Linked DNA regions of Homo sapiens. The protein of the gene in region 1 purifies or fractionates together with the protein of each later gene. This does not show direct contact. Each region holds a gene or a part of one and is shown on either strand. Other genes may lie near its edges.

Evidence for each region.
Region 2: the proteins of ABCF2 (region 1) and NUDCD1 purify together in Homo sapiens (affinity purification with mass spectrometry, with the first as the bait; 2 studies listed by BioGRID). This does not show direct contact.

The regions. Positions count from the first base shown.
Region 1 is NC_000007.14:151,210,522-151,218,328, reverse strand, and holds the end of ABCF2 (ATP-binding cassette sub-family F member 2), read left to right. Parts: intron 1-137; coding exon 138-248; intron 249-2,299; coding exon 2,300-2,362; intron 2,363-2,596; coding exon 2,597-2,725; intron 2,726-3,246; coding exon 3,247-3,450; intron 3,451-4,137; coding exon 4,138-4,275; 3' UTR 4,276-6,845; downstream 6,846-7,807. Other genes in the region: ABCF2-H2BK1 (ABCF2-H2B protein), read left to right, coding at 138-248, 2,300-2,362, 2,597-2,725, 3,247-3,450, 4,138-4,271.
Region 2 is NC_000008.11:109,239,814-109,248,067, forward strand, and holds the end of NUDCD1 (nudC domain-containing protein 1), read right to left. Parts: intron 5,669-8,254; coding exon 5,509-5,668; intron 3,489-5,508; coding exon 3,196-3,488; 3' UTR 1,106-3,195; downstream 1-1,105.

The DNA.
Region 1 (7,807 bases):
GTCTGCTATGAGTGCTTCCTCCCGCTACTCTCCCTTCCTCCTCTCTTGGTGACTGGGAATTCAGCGGGCTTGGTCTGCTGGTCATAGCAGATCTGTATTCTAGCCTTGTGTCCACATCTCTCTCATCCCCACCTCAGCCTTGCATCTACAATAATCTAGAATTTGGAATTGACCTTGACACACGAGTGGCTCTGGTAGGGCCCAATGGAGCAGGGAAGTCAACTCTTCTGAAGCTGCTAACTGGAGAGGTATGGTGCCAAGGTGGGCGTGGATCCCTCTAAGATTAGGCCTTGCGATGGTTAAGGAAGAGGGGAGTGATGCAGGGGCTACTACTTTGGGAGGGCCTGAGTACCCTGGTGGTGAGTGAGCCATCTGGAGGGGTGGAGCAGCAGCCAGGAGAGGGGGAATGTCTGGTTGGACAGTGCTGAGGCTGGGGGCTGTTTTCCTGGGACAGGGATAGGTAGGGAGGAGTCTTAGAGTGTGTGTGTGAATACATGTATGTGTTTAAGCACGTTTCTATTTTCTTTTTTTTTTTTTGAGGTGGAGTCTCGCTCTGTTGCCCAGGCTGGAGTGCAATGTGCGATCTCAGCTCACCGCAACCTTCATCCCCCGAGTTCAAGCAATTCTCCTGCCTCAGCCTCCCAAGTAGCTGGGATTACAGGCACACGCCACAGCTAATTTTTTTGTATTTTAGTAGAGATGGGGTTTCACCATGTTCATTAGGCTGGTCTTGAACTCCTGACCTCATGATCTGCCCACCTCGGCCTCCCAAAGTGCTGGGATTACAGGCGTGAGCCACCGCGTCTGGCCCATGTTTCTATTTTCAATCAGAGCATTTAGAATATAGGAACATCTGTGCATTTAGGGATGCTGCAGGTTCTCAAGTAATGTCATTTCATTAATATTGATGAAAAATAGAAATGATTCCCAGCTGGGGCCACTGTCTTTGTGGAGTTTGCACTTTCCCTTTAACGTCTACATGGGTTTTCTCTGGTACTTCAGTTTCTTCCCAATTCCAAAGCTGCACCTGTCAGGTTACTTGGAACGTCTCAGTGGTTCCAGTCTGAATGAGTGCGGGTGTGTGAGTGCATCCTATAATGGAATGGTGTCCTCTTCAGGGCTGGTTCTTGTCTTGTTCCCTGGGTTGTGGGATGGGCTCCAGCTGCCCATGATCCTAAACTTGAATAAGCAGGTTGGAAAATGATAGAATGAATGAATATAAAATATTGTAAAAGAAAAATTCATAAAGTTTATGATAACCATACAAATGCAGTCAGCAAACCAGCCACATTCGTGATTATTTTTTAACTGTGTGGTGGTAGGAGGTGCTCCTTACAGTTTTCCCTTTGCAAACATTTATTCCTTGGTTTAACCCACCACTCTTAAAATTGCCATCACTCACTGATTCACCAAAAATTGGGTAAATATCTTACCTTGTTTTTATTAATCTTTCTTAAGTGTATGTATAGCTCACATGTATTTTGATGTTGAATATTAGAAGTGACTGGGTTTTTTGGCCAGGTGCCGTGGCTCACACCTGTAATCCCAGTGCTTTGGGAGGCCGAGGCAGGCAGATCACTTGAGATCAGGAGTGTGAGACCAGCCTGGCCACATGGTGAAACCCCCTCTCTACTAAAAATGCAAAAAAAAAATTAGCCAGGTGTGGTGGCGGGTGTCTGTAATCCCAGCTACTCCAGAATCTCTTGAGCCTGGGACAGAGAAGTTGCAGTTAGTCGAGATCTCGCCACTGCACTCCAGCCTGGGCAACAGAGCGAGACTCCCTCTTAAAGAAAAGAATCTTTGGATCTTTATTTAGAAGTTTGGTGATCTTTTTTTGTGACCAAAAATGCTGCAGGAACCTAATTCTTGTTTATATCAGTTAGCCTGTGGCAAAATTAGTTTTGCTATATGTTGTTTCACTTAAAGTGAAACTTTAAAATAGGTTCTGTTTCTAAGAACCTATCGATGACAGTGACAACTTTGAGGACTTAACTGTTTTTAATTTTAGAAAATGTATGTTGCACCTACATCCAAGTCCTTTGTTATACAGCATAGTGCATTCAGTAGACATTTTATAACTACTTAAATTGTATCTTTGCCTCTTGAGAACATCTGCTTCAGTACATCTTCCTAAATATTTTTAGAGTGGCCAGAATAGCAGTGTGCGAGTTGGTGATGTATTCTTTTTAGGAAGTTGAGTCTTGTTCAGTGTGAACATGTGTTTGTTTGCCTGCTCTGCCTATGTTTCTAACTGGGCTTCCTTTGTTTCATGCTTACGTTTCTACTTTTTTCTTCCTAGCTACTACCCACAGATGGCATGATCCGAAAACACTCTCATGTCAAGATAGGGCGTTACCATCAGGTACAGGCCTGGGGTTGGGATCCGGGGAATTGCCCAGGGTATAGGGAGGGGCTGTATCTGGCTGAGTTCCAGCCAGCCGCCCCCACCCCCTGGCAGGAATTCCAGCCTAGGTGGCTCCTACCTGCTTCTTGAACCCAGAACAGGTGCCTGGGATAGAAATAGGAAGTTACCTAGTAGGGTTTATTTTGAAGCGGGATGCCAGTCACACCCGGGTGGCTTCCATTTTTCCTGTAGCATTTACAAGAGCAGCTGGACTTAGATCTCTCACCTTTGGAGTACATGATGAAGTGCTACCCAGAGATCAAGGAGAAGGAAGAAATGAGGAAGATCATTGGGCGATACGGTCTCACTGGGAAACAACAGGTCAGTAAAGGAGGGTGTGGTGAGGATGCCAGATAGCTGGCAGACTGTGGCTGGGTGGGTCAGGGGATACTGTCCTGGCAGCCTGGGTTTGGAAGCTGTCCAAACCAGAGTCTCCTCCATTTGACTCCCCTAAGAACCTACTACCTTTTCTTTACTCTAGGTTGTTATGTAATGGAGCATTTTGAGGGGGCAAGGATAGCGTGCCAGTCTCTGACATGCCCTTGTGCCATAGTGCTTGAGGGCAAAGGAACTTGTAATCTAGAAAACAAATTTCTGGATTCAGATCTGGAAGGATCCAATTCATTGCCAAGAGAGCGAGAGGTGTGGGCTTAGTAATGGCAAGGGCTTCAGGTTTCCGGATGAGTCTCTTTCAGGCCTCAAGAGACTAGTGGGTCTCTCTGAGCCTCACTTTTTATAAATGGCGATGCTAATGGAGGAGTCAGGGAGAAATGAGGGAGAGATGAGCTGTGCTGTTTGGCGGGGATAATGCCAAGTTATATGTAGGTCACGGTTCTACTCAGGTGAGCCCAATCCGGAACTTGTCAGACGGGCAGAAGTGCCGAGTGTGTCTGGCCTGGCTGGCCTGGCAGAACCCCCACATGCTCTTCCTGGATGAACCCACCAATCACCTGGATATCGAGACCATCGACGCCCTGGCAGATGCCATCAATGAGTTTGAGGGTGGTATGATGCTGGTCAGCCATGACTTCAGACTCATTCAGCAGGTGAGGCCCTGGCCAGGGGGTGAGGCACAGCAGAGCTTCTAGGGGGTTGGGTAGGGTAGTCATGGCATGTGGAGGGTGCATAATACCCGCCTACTGAATTAAGAGAAGGGGCTCAGAGTGTAGACACAGGTGGTGAGGACCAGTTCTTATGCCTCTTTGGGGCTACTTAGAAAGCCTTAACTGAAACACTTCATTTCTTCAGTAGCTATCTGGAGATGTCAACCAACTTAGCATTTTGGGCCCAAATGGGAAAGAGAGTTGGGTAGAAAACGGTGCTTTTACTACTGTCCCAAGATTCTTCAGTCCAAAAATAGTATTCTAAGGAGGATTTTGATTAGACAGCTACCACAGTCATTTGAGAAAAAGTTGTTGCTCATTCCTCTGAAGCTCTGGGGAAGATGAGAGGTGGAGAAAAGAAGGCTGAGAGTGAAGCCTCTGAATAGATCTAGGCCCTGCCAGGGAGCTGACAATAGGAGTGACACAGCAGTTCCTGGCTTGGAAGGCTCCAAACCTGATGATGGTACCCTTGGGTTAGAACATCCCAAATAACTTAGAAGTAGTGAGACAGTGAGTTGGATATGGGTTTGGGGGGCGGAGTTTTCTTCCTAGACGCCCCTCAGGACAGTCTGCTGGGCAGAGGCAGGGACAGTGACTAGCCCAGGATTAAGTCCAGGTTTTGCTTTCTAGGTTGCACAGGAAATTTGGGTCTGTGAGAAGCAGACAATCACCAAGTGGCCTGGAGACATCCTGGCTTACAAGGAGCACCTCAAGTCCAAGCTGGTGGATGAGGAGCCCCAGCTCACCAAGAGGACCCACAACGTGTGAGCCCTCTACCTGGGTTCGGGTCAGGAGCTCCATCTGGGAACTAACAGCTGCTAACCTGACCAGCCGCTCAGGACAGGACCCTGGGGCTACACTCCTGCATTGCTGCAATACTGCTCCCCCAGCCTCTCCCCTGCCCCTCAACCTGCCTTAGCTGCACTCTCTTACCTACAGCTGGACAGTACCTGTCTGTTTCCTGTCCTCCTTCCAGTTACATCTGTCCATGTCTGGACTCGGCTGGCCGTTCCCTCCAGCCCCTTGCTGGTTATCTTACTCTGAGTGTGATGCAGTCAGAGGCACCTGCGGGTTAGCCCAGGGGCCCAAGCCCTGGATTTGGCCTGCGGAGGAGCTTAGGATCCTCGTTTTCTGGGTTTTGGTGATGTTGGAGGAGTACCCCCCAGCCCACCGCCCCGATTCCTTTTTGCTTCTGGTTTGGAGCTCCGGACCAGGACCTTCGTCCTGGTCAGTTTTTAAATAATTATTTAGCAGTGTAACTTTTAGACCTGCGTGACATCTACAAAGCGCCCAATAAAGAAAGAGGAAGCCACGGTCCCTACCTTCCTTCTCGGGTCTCTGGGGCCTTCTCCTCCCTGCAGTGCCAACATGCACTGCCCACAGCAGGAGCTGGATCCAGCGTCAGTGTGTCGATGGGAACTGAAGACTAGTCCATAGGAGCTGGAAGAACTTTGTCCCTTTACTTCTGATTTGAAATTGTACCTTTTCTCAGGCCTGTGATTCACAGACTTTAACATGAATCAGAATCACCTGGAGGGCTCATGCAATCAGATTGCCAGATCTCGCCTCAGCGTTTCTGGTTCAATAGGTTTTGGGGGAGACCAAGAACGTTAACATTTCTAGCAAGTTTCCAGGTGATGCTGTTGTTGCTGGTCTAGAGACTATTTTGAGAACCACTGTCCAGGAGCGTGGTTTTCTGATTGTGATCTGAGGTTCTGCCCCAACTGCACAGCAGTTGGGCTGCTTGTTAAAAATGCAGGCCAGGTGCGGTGGCTCACACCTGTAATCCCAGCGCTTTGGGAGGCTGAGGCAGGTGGATCACTTGAGCTCAGGAGTTCAAGACCAGCTTGGGAAACATGGCAAAACCCGTCTTTATGTGCCTGGAATCCCACCTGCTCAGGTGGCTAGGGTGGATGGATCGCTTGAGCCCAGGAGGTGGAGGTTGCAGTGAGCTGAGATTGCACCACTGCATTCCAGCCTGGATGACAGAGCAAAACCCTGTCTCAAAAAAATGCAGACTGGCCAGGCACAGTGGCTCACACCTGTAATCCGACTGTAAGCTCATCACCTTGGGAGGCCACTGTAGGAGGATCAATTGAGCCTAGAAGTTCAAGACCAGCCTGGGCAAAGTAGGGAGACCCCTTCTCTACAAATAGTAATAAAATGAACCGGGCATAGTAGCATGTGCCTGCGGTCCCAGCTGCTCTGATAAGAGGAGGCTCACTTGAGCCCAGGAGGTTGAGGCTGCAGTGAGCAGAGCGTGCCGCTACACTCCAGCCTGATGACAGACCGAGACACTGTCTCAAAAAAATAAAAAAATTCAGATTGCTGAGCATCAGACCTATTGATTAATCGCATTTGGTAGAATGAGAGAGGTGCAGAGATGGCCAGGAGTTTGCATTTTCACACCAACGTCTGTGAACCTCTCTTCCTATTGGGATACAGGAAATTTTGTATTTTTACCTGTCCACAGCCATAGTTATCATCACTGTTGAATTCACTTCCAGCCCAGGGCTCTGCATACCTTATCTGGGTCTTTTGAACTTCAATAGCATTTCACCAGTGGCCATCCTTCCTGGTGTGGATTCATCACTCTGCCTCTGAAATCAGCCATCCCTATGGGAAGACACAGCCATGATTTTTCAGTACTCATAATACAGCCAGGACTGGCGGGAGCAACTGTCCCAGATGGTGCTTAAACCCCTTAGGAGCTCATGATCTTCTTGGAAAGCCAGTAAGACAGAACCATACAGGACACAAATTAGATGCTAAATTGTGATTTAGATAGGAGACAGAAGTATTCAAAAAGGAGGGAAATTTCTTGTGAGTAGCTGCCCAGAAAGGTGGAATTGGTGTGCTCTCACTTGAAAAATGAGTAGGATCTTCTCAGATGGCCACAAAGTCCAGGAGCTGCCCTGGGCAACAGGGACAGGAGCCTCCCGTGAGACACTGCAGCTGAGACAGATGGGAGTCCTCTGACCCCAGAGGGTACTGGCTTGACTGCTTTATGCCTTAAGTGGGGCCTGGAGCAAAATGGCCCAGGTTAGTCTGTCCTGAGAGTCCAGAGCCTTGGTTCAGGGGAGAATGGCATCTGGAGAGTGGGCTGCTGGGATAATGGGGACAGTGAGGGACAGAGCCCTTGATACTTAAGGAAGTGCTGGATATTGCTAAGAATTCAGGTAGTCTCGGGATCTCCAGAGTCTCCATACTAGGACAGGAGATCTTCAGAACCTGGAGGAATGGAAATAGTCTAGTCAGCTTATTTGTCAAGAAAAATGTCAACCTTGGTAATTTAAATAATGCTTTAAAAGTCCACAAAATACATATTTCTAAAATTAGCAGTGCCTTGTTTTGGATTGAGAAGTGGCCTGTTAATTCTCTTAAACCTTAGCCCGTAGGATGTGGCCAGCCGTTCAGAGCTGGGTGGAGAGGTAAGTTGATTGAGGGGTTGCTAGCTTTAACACAGCCAGCAGGTGATGCTGGTCTTTGGAACCCTTCTCCCACCTCTCAATTTGTAACATCCTCTTTTCCCCCAAGCCCCTATACCTTTCATATTGCTCCAGGTTTCTTTAATCACAGCATTCAAGGGCCTGAAGTATTTGTTCCCCCATAGGTGCTAAGTGAGACAATTGACTTTCTCCATTTTGCAATGGGCTTTTCTTCCCTTTACTGCTAACTCCCAAGACCGCCACGTCTGCTTTTCTGGTGAGCACCTATTGCTTTTCTGCTTCTCACCTCCTCCAGTGGTCTTCCTCCCTGTCAGCCTCTTCACCACCTGGGGAGCTTCTGCTATCTGCATCTAGTCCAGGCTCAGGCGTTTTGCTCATCTGCCTTCAGTCCAAGCCTCATTATACTCCGCTCACACTGATTCCACTCTACCTTTCACACCGTTTCTTTCTCTCATTCTTCCCAATTAAAGGATACATCCTACAAGGATACATCCTACAATGGGTATATGAAGGATACCCTTCATATACCCATTTGTACCAAGAAGCGGCCTCTAGCTACTCGAGCCCTCCTCACCATGGGTACCACCACTTTTAGCCCCTTCACCCTTCTCTGGTGGTTTGATGTGAACCAGTCTTGTCTCTTCACCTCCACTGGGGCGCAGTGGGGGAGGGAGCTTGCATTCCTTCTGGAGTCTGCAGCACTCTGAGCTGTGCTGGCACCTGTGTGCTCCGTGATTACAGGCTGGTGGGCTGGAGTTGCCTGAACTTTTAAGAAGTGCGTAAATACACTGGGAGATGGTTGGGTGGGGGAGGGGACCCGGTGAAGGGTTTCTTAATTCAGAGGGATTACT
Region 2 (8,254 bases), on another chromosome or scaffold:
CTGACCATCTTTATTTTCTTTTCTGTGAATTAACTGTTCATATCTTTTGTCTGCTTTCCTTTTGTATAACTTGTTTGCTTTTTTATTAAATGATAGTTCTTATGTTCTAGATTTTAACATTCATACATTACGCATAAGTCACATATCTTTCCTCAGTCTGTTGCTTTATCTTATACCAAAAGTAGGTCATAAAGAAATTTTACATTTTGTAATGATCAAATTCATCAATCCTTTCGCTTATATTTTTGCCTTCTGGATCTTAAGAAGCCTTCTCAACCTTGAGAATATAGATATTTTCTTCTTGTAAGTATAGGACGATTAAATGTGTGTCTATTTTGTTTACTAATGCAATGATGCTACTCTTTTTACTGCTTCATGATGTATCTTGATATCTAGTTGGGTACCTTTTACCTTGGCTCTTTTTGTGCATTTATTCTTTCTTACCAATTCTAGAAGGCCTTACTTCTCTTTGCTTTATTACTTCTATACTTCCATCATTGGGCTTTTGTTTTTTACCACTCAACTATTATTACTTGTTCAGTAAGACACACTTACTACTAAGAAGTAATTAGAATATTCTTCCAGTAATAATCAGTGATAAGTATCAGTTTTGCCTTCTTATATGACTTGCCACACATAAACTTACCATCTGTTCTTTTCTATAGTTAATAACACAAAATATTAGAAATTCCTGTGTAATGATGGTTTAACTTGTTCTGTACAGTCATTTCCCTTTTATGTAGAAATTTGATGAGTATACTTTATTTAAGAGTATTTTTTTTAACATTGTTAACCATTCCTAATTTCTTGACACTCTGATTCTTTTTTCTAACTCTTCCCATTGGCAACTCCTCTACCTGACTCTTGTGGGTAGTCCCCAAGGTTCTAGCCCTGGTCAGACTTCCTTAGCAGGAAAGCAACCACTCTATGCCACCCTCTCCTCTTTTTTTCCCTAAAAAGAAATTTTATCTGAAAATCATTAAAATGTAGATTGTCTCTTTATCCTTAGTAATATATTATCCTTAATACTGAAAAAATCATGCTAAGGTACATAGTTGATGCTTAAATGTGTTAAAAGAGTGAATATTGTTAATGACTCTTAATATGCAAAACACATAAAATACTACTTTATTACTATCATAAATATTTTATAAATTCCTATTTAAAACATGATAAAAATCAACAAAAATACAAGGTACTATATTCTTAGCACTTGTAGTATATATCTCAATGTTCTAAGTATATGTACCTTAGAACATTGTTTAAATGTTTATGGAATCCCTGAAGCATTTCAGGAAAATAGCTTGAAATCACGGCTCTAGACCTATTCATCTTTTAACGTAGGTCAACATGCGACAATATTTAGGATTAATTATCCTGAGAGCTTTCAATTCAACATTAATCATGCAAAAAAATCACATGCACAAAGAATATTGATTACTAAAATTGGCAATATATACATAGTCATGGTTAATTAAGCACCACATTTTTATTATACATTTTTCTTATGTTCCCTAAGAGGATATTATCTTTGGGGAAAATTTTAGAGAAAATTTAGATCTACTTTCCCATCATAAAGATTTTTAATAATTCACTATTTAAATGGTCTTTTGTTTCATGAAGTTTTACAACAATACTAAAAAGTTCTGGAAATATCACTGTTTTGGTTTTTGGTTACTATACAGTTTTCCATCTCTATGATCTCGTGATGTTTGGTATCTAGTCTCTCTTTCCTAATACGAATAGAGTACTATTAGGACTCCAATTGTCAATACCAGTCCTCAGGACCTTTCCTAACTTTCTACCTAGCACCTCAATACTCTCTAGGAAACTGCAATCTGACAAAGGGTTTAGAACATGTATGCAATCCTCATCTTTTTTCCTCCTCTCTGTCATTCATTCGTTCATTAAAATTTAGTTGAGTCAAATACTTGCCCAGACAGGCAAAAGATATGTTAGGAACAAAGCTTTTCTATCTTATATTTCTTATCTTAATCTTCTGCCTCTTAAATGAAGGTCTTAACTTCCTTATTAAAATATAAAATCCAACTTGAGGTTTATATAAGATACATATCTTGAAATGGTATAAAAAGTAATAAAAATTTCCAGGTACATACATACTAAAACAAACCTGGAAAGGTAAGTTTGAAAAAACAAAATTTGTGGCAAGAAACTATAACATATAAACAGGATTATTTTGTTGAAGTTGTTAGAAAAATAAAGAGAGCCACAAGGATAAATTATAATTTGTCCTTGTGTGGTAAGATTGTTCCATCAATGGCCCCCAATGAGTCATACCATCCGCTGTCAGCTTGTGTAGTCCCCTCATTCTGACTCTAGACTTGGCCATGTGATTTGCTTTGTCCAATGGAACATTAGTAAATATGATAGATGTACAGGATCGATAAGCTCTTGCATATTGGAGCTTGCTCTCTTAAGATGTTTTCTCTACTATGGAAAGAAGATTCGTCTAGTCTACTGGAGGCTGAGAGGCCCTGTACAGCAGAGACAGCCAACTCACTGAATCGTGAAAAATAATAAAAGTCCTTGTTTTAAACCACTGAGTTTTGGTGTGGTTTGTTATGCAGTGATGGATAATGTGAAATCTTATCTCTCTTTGTCTATGTCTGTGGCAGAGCAACTGGCTAAAAGTTACATAAAGCTATACTTAATTTGAAAATAATAATAAAGGTCTCTCAGTAAACTTAAAAAATATTAGACCTGCTGTTCTCTAGCATTTCCTCCTCCATGTAGACTCAGTTATTCAATCCACTTAAATACATATGTACAATACTCAACATTTAACTATTATCCTGTACATCTTATAGGTACAGCCTGTAGCAACTAATCAACGAACAGAGTACACAATAAATATTTTTATTTTTAAACACTGAATTGTACATCTTTCATATAAAACATGAGATTCTAGCCTGTTTTAAAAAATAAGTATACTTGCTAGTACTATCTTCACTCTTTTTTTTTTTCAGAAGCCAATGTTCTCTAAATCTGCAGCTTCATTCCACAGCTTTACAGAATCATAATCTCTTGAATATATTTCCAATGTTATTAAAAAATAAAAAATCATACAAGATATATTTAGCACATTAAAACTTAAGAGGTTACAGTATAACTGTCCAGACCTCCAGGTACCACTGAATACTTTTCCAGTACAAAGAGGCCAATATGTTAGAATAATTAATTCTCTGTATTTACTTTTATTAAAAAGAGGTTTTTGGTAGTAAGAACAAATAATCTCTCATTTGTTGCCTGAAATCCTAAAATAGGATCATTGGTTTCTAGGCTTGCTACTTGCTGCTTAGCAACCTGTCCTACTTGCCTGCCTTCCTTTCTGTTGTAAAGTACAGTGGACATGGGAGCAGGCTGACGATAGATGAATACTCGACGAAGGCACTCACAAAGGGCTGCATACGAGTAATTTGGAGCACAGGCAAAAAATTTTTTGTCTCTCTTTGATGCTTGGACATAGCCTGCCAAGAATATGAGACAAACAAAAGAAAAACTATATATTAAACAGAAGGGGAAAAATGATGATTTAACATTTAATATTTTGCAATGTTTATTACAAATTAAAATGCCCAAGTAAAATATATACCATAAGGTATATAATTCTGAATCATTAACGATTAGCCACAATCAGTCTCTCCCATCTGGTACAAAAATACGACTTTAATTCCTAAGGAACAAAACAGATATGGCTTTCTCGCTTCAAAAAAAGCGTAATATAGCTTCATTTAATTTCCACGAATAATTCGAACACTAAAATTCTAAAATCTAAAACACTCAATACATGACAAAATATCTTTAAGTGCCAATTTAATATTTAGCTTCGTGAGTTACGGATAGGGCATCACAGAACCATTTTTTTCCTCTTAAATAAATTGGAAAATGTGTATAGGATACCATCATAAAGTTATTTTAGTTTTCTGTTCATAATGTATCCCTGAATGTACTAGTATTCGTGATGCATTCTCTTATTATCCCTAAAATGTTAGTGATATTTTTATACATCAATACCAACACTGTAACTGGATTTTTTTGTACTTTTAGCCCCCACAAGTAGAATGTTGATCACTATAACTTCAAAAATAATTTCAAGTCTCTAAACTGAAAAAAATCCTTATCTTAATTCATGTACATGTTTAAAAAGTATCTTTTTGGATTAAAACAACATTTATATTCCAAAATATAAATTATGATTTTTAGATAGTGACATGGTTAGCAAATGTTAGGTATTTATGATCATGTAAAATAAGAATATAACATTAATTAAAATTGAGATCTCATCAAACAATGAATAAGCAAAGGAACTACTGAGCACATGCAGATCAATACTGTTTTTAAAAATATTAAGCAGGTTTGAAGCAGGAAAAGTGAAGATTTAGATACCTATTTAAATAGTTTAAAGTAGCTATCCAGGCTAACCTTGACAGAATAATGTATATAATATTTCAAGAGTACATATCTAATATATGTTGATTTAACTTAGAATTAAGCATAGAATTCCCCTATAATAGGGGATTTGGGGATACAAATAGAACATCTGAGCATCTAAAGATGATATGATAGAGCTTTCTTCTGACCAAAGTATAGATAATTAAAAAATAGCATTATAGTAGGGAGGCTAAAAATTATATGGTTAAATTAGTTAACCAAACTTTGTACTTCAGGTCATAAAAATCCATTTGGAGTCTGAACCAGTTTAGCAGCCTACATTATTAACTATAAGGGATAATTAATAAATTTCTTCTACAATTAGGGTTGTGCACATATAGCCATCAAAATACGTAACTTCACTTCTTGCTGCCTGTTTAAAATAACCTTTCAATAAAGCAACAACTGTGGCTAATTCACATAAAAAATTTCTGTCACACAATACTAATGCATTTTGACAGAAAATCAATGATTGCATACGTCTATAATTAAGTAGTTTAAACATTGTCAAGCCCTAATTTTAAAACTGATTTTTTTCCTTTTATCCTACCAAATAAATTTAATTTCTGCTTATCACCGCTTTCCATAAGTATTTTCATTATAATGGCTCTCTTTTGTACTTAATTTTGACAAAAGATGTCTCCTAATGTGCATTACACCTTAGGGGAATTCTATGATGTTTCTGAAGATTACTCTGAAGAAACTTGAACACCAGTTCCATGTAGGGTATTATCAAGCTCCTTGCTCAGACTCCAGTATTATATGGCTTACAGAATTAGAAAAAGCAAATGACTTATTAGAATAATTCAAGTGGTTAGATAACCACTTTCATTTCTATTCTGTGTTGATCTTCTGTACAAGCATAAAAACAGATTAGTCTAAATGTTCCAACAGTGCTAACACTCACAACTAGTACAAGCAAACAAATCATAGCGCAAATCAATCTAAATGTAATCAGGACAGCTCAAATTAAAAAGAAAAAAAAGAAATGAACTTTAAATGAATGATGACTGTATTTCTGATTTCATGGAAAATGTCAAAGAGTTTGCTTTATACCTAAAGCATTGAAAGTTGCGATGTGCTCCCACATATCATCTTGTTTGCTGGAGTGTGGTTGCCAGAGTAGGGCATCAACATCATGGCGCAAACAGAAGCAGGGCATTTCTTTAGGATCCACTATGACAGAGAAAAGGTACTGGTTGCTTCCAAGATTCACCTAAAAAGTGATTTAAAAAAAAATTTACTCAACAACAAATTAATAATAGCAACAATAACAATGGCAGAAGCTGACAGCCAGCATTAAGTGTCAGCAACTGTTTTATACTTTTTATATACTTAATCTGATTGACTCCTCATAATATCCCTGAGATAAATGTGCTACTGTTATGTTCATTTCAAAGCTGAGGAAAGTGATGCACAAGGCATTTAGGTAACTTGTCGATGGTCAGCCTGGCCATAAGTCATGGAGCTGAAATTTGGACCCAGAGTCTATGTTCTTAATCACCACGTGATATACCACCTCTTAATTGTTAGTAAATAGTTTAAAACACGATATAAAGCAGGGGTCCCCAGTCACTGAGCCGCAGACTGGTACCAGTCAGTGGCCTTTTAGGAACTGGGCCGCACAGCAAGAGATGAGCAGCAGGCAAGGGAGCATTACTGCCTGAGCTCCACCTCCTGTCAGATCAGCAGTGGAATTAGATTCTCACAGGAGGGTGAACACTATTGTGAAATGCACATGCAAGGGATCTAGGCTGTCTGCCTTATGAGAATCTAACTAATACCTGATGATCTGAGGTGGAACAGTTTCATCCTGAAACCATCCACCAAGCCCCCACAGGCCCATGGAAAAACTGTCTTCCACAAAACTGGTCCCTGGTGCCAAAAAGGTTGGGGACTGCTGATATAAAGCACCAATTTTATAAGCAGACTATTTTTAGGCCATAGAATACACACATGAAGTTTACTAATGCTAACTTGTAATAATTACCAAGAACAATGACACTACCAGAATTTATGAGCACACTCTCATAACATTTATAACCAGGCATGTTATAAATACTAATCTTAACAACTCGCAAGGCTATTATTATCTTCATTTAAGGGATGAAAGAACAGGCTTGGAGAGTTTGAGTAACTTGTTCTAGGCTAAAGAGAAATATCACAATGCTGGAATTCACACTCAGATGTTTAAAACTATTTACTTAAACGTACTGCTTAATTAAAGTATCAATGTCAATATGTCAATAATGTCAACATTTGTTATTGTAACACATCAATAATTGTTACTGCAATATTGATGCCTAAAGAAATGCATTTTAATACAAAATCATCAAATTGAAACTCACTGAATTTCATCTACAGCAATACTTTTTCTAAATGAAGACATGTTGTAAGGATAGTCTTCTTTATGAGAAATGTTATTATCAGAGTTGAAAATACGAAACAGAATACCAACAAAAATCACATCAAATGTAGAAAATATAAAATATGCACAGTACTTATAAATATGTAATTGATTCTAGGAGTTTGCAAGCAGACTGGAGAACCGTAAAAGATTGGGTTAAAGTAAGAAGTGGAGACCTGACCTGAATTCAACAGGGAAAGCTGTGAAGTGGCTCTCCAGCAAGGGGACCTATTATTGGTAAAGCTGTGACAACACAGGCTATTGGTCACAGGAGAATACAGTGTCAGAGCAACCCATCTTCTGCTCCCCAGCAATGCCAGGGAAATAGGGCTTTTTCGTAGAGCCAGTGCTTGCTCTCTACAAAATAAGGGGAGAAGGCCAGCACACAGAGACCACAGACTATTTCTTTTCTCTCCTTACTCCCGATGATCAGTGGCTAGATGAGGTTTATTTTCAAAGTCACCACTACCTAACTGGCCTTTTATTATTATGTTTGACAGACCTAACACTGCTTCAGCTCTCTTCCCTGTACTCCAACTCTGATACTCTATTTTTTTTAACCAAGGGCTTTCACAGAAGAAAAATAAACAACAGCTAAAATAAAATACAAGTTGAAACAATATTTTCACAACAATACATCTACTTTCATGAGCCAAGTGCCTAAAGAATGTATTGAATATTATGAGGATTAATATAATTGAATGATCTCTGGTCCATCCATACTTGAAGAGACAGCAGTGAGAAAAGAATAGAGGACCTTGAACCACGAAGTGAAAGGTGACCACCAAGGGAGATCAATCATGAAAATAAGAGGATAAGAATGAAGGTAGGTGCCTTATTATGAGCCCCTCACTCTGACTTAGATGTTTCTTCACTTCAGCAGCCACTTACCTTACGCATATTTCCATTATGGCGACTGTGTCAAGTGTTGTTAATTGTGAAACTAGCAATTTCATACAGCTTGTCTTTGCCATACCTTTGACATAGCATTCTGTTTGGACTCCTTGTATTTTTTTTACCTGATAGATTCCCACTTATCCTCTAAGACTCAATTCAACCATCAGTTGCTCTCAGAATTCCCCCACTCTCGTGGTTATATGAGCTGCTTGAATTCTGAGAACTCCAGCATCATGTATGTTATTCCTATCAAATTATTTATCATATTATATTAGATTATTAATATTTTTACATACCACCTGTGGCAGGATGAATAACGTCCCCCAAAGATGTCCACATCTAAATCCCTTGGAACCTGTGAATAAGTTACCTTATATAGCAAAAGGGACTTTGTAGATGTGGTTAAGTTTAAGGTCCTGGGATGGAGAGATTATCCTGGAATATGTGGGTAGACTCAATGTATTAAGAAGTATTCTTAGGGAGGGAGGAGGGCCACAG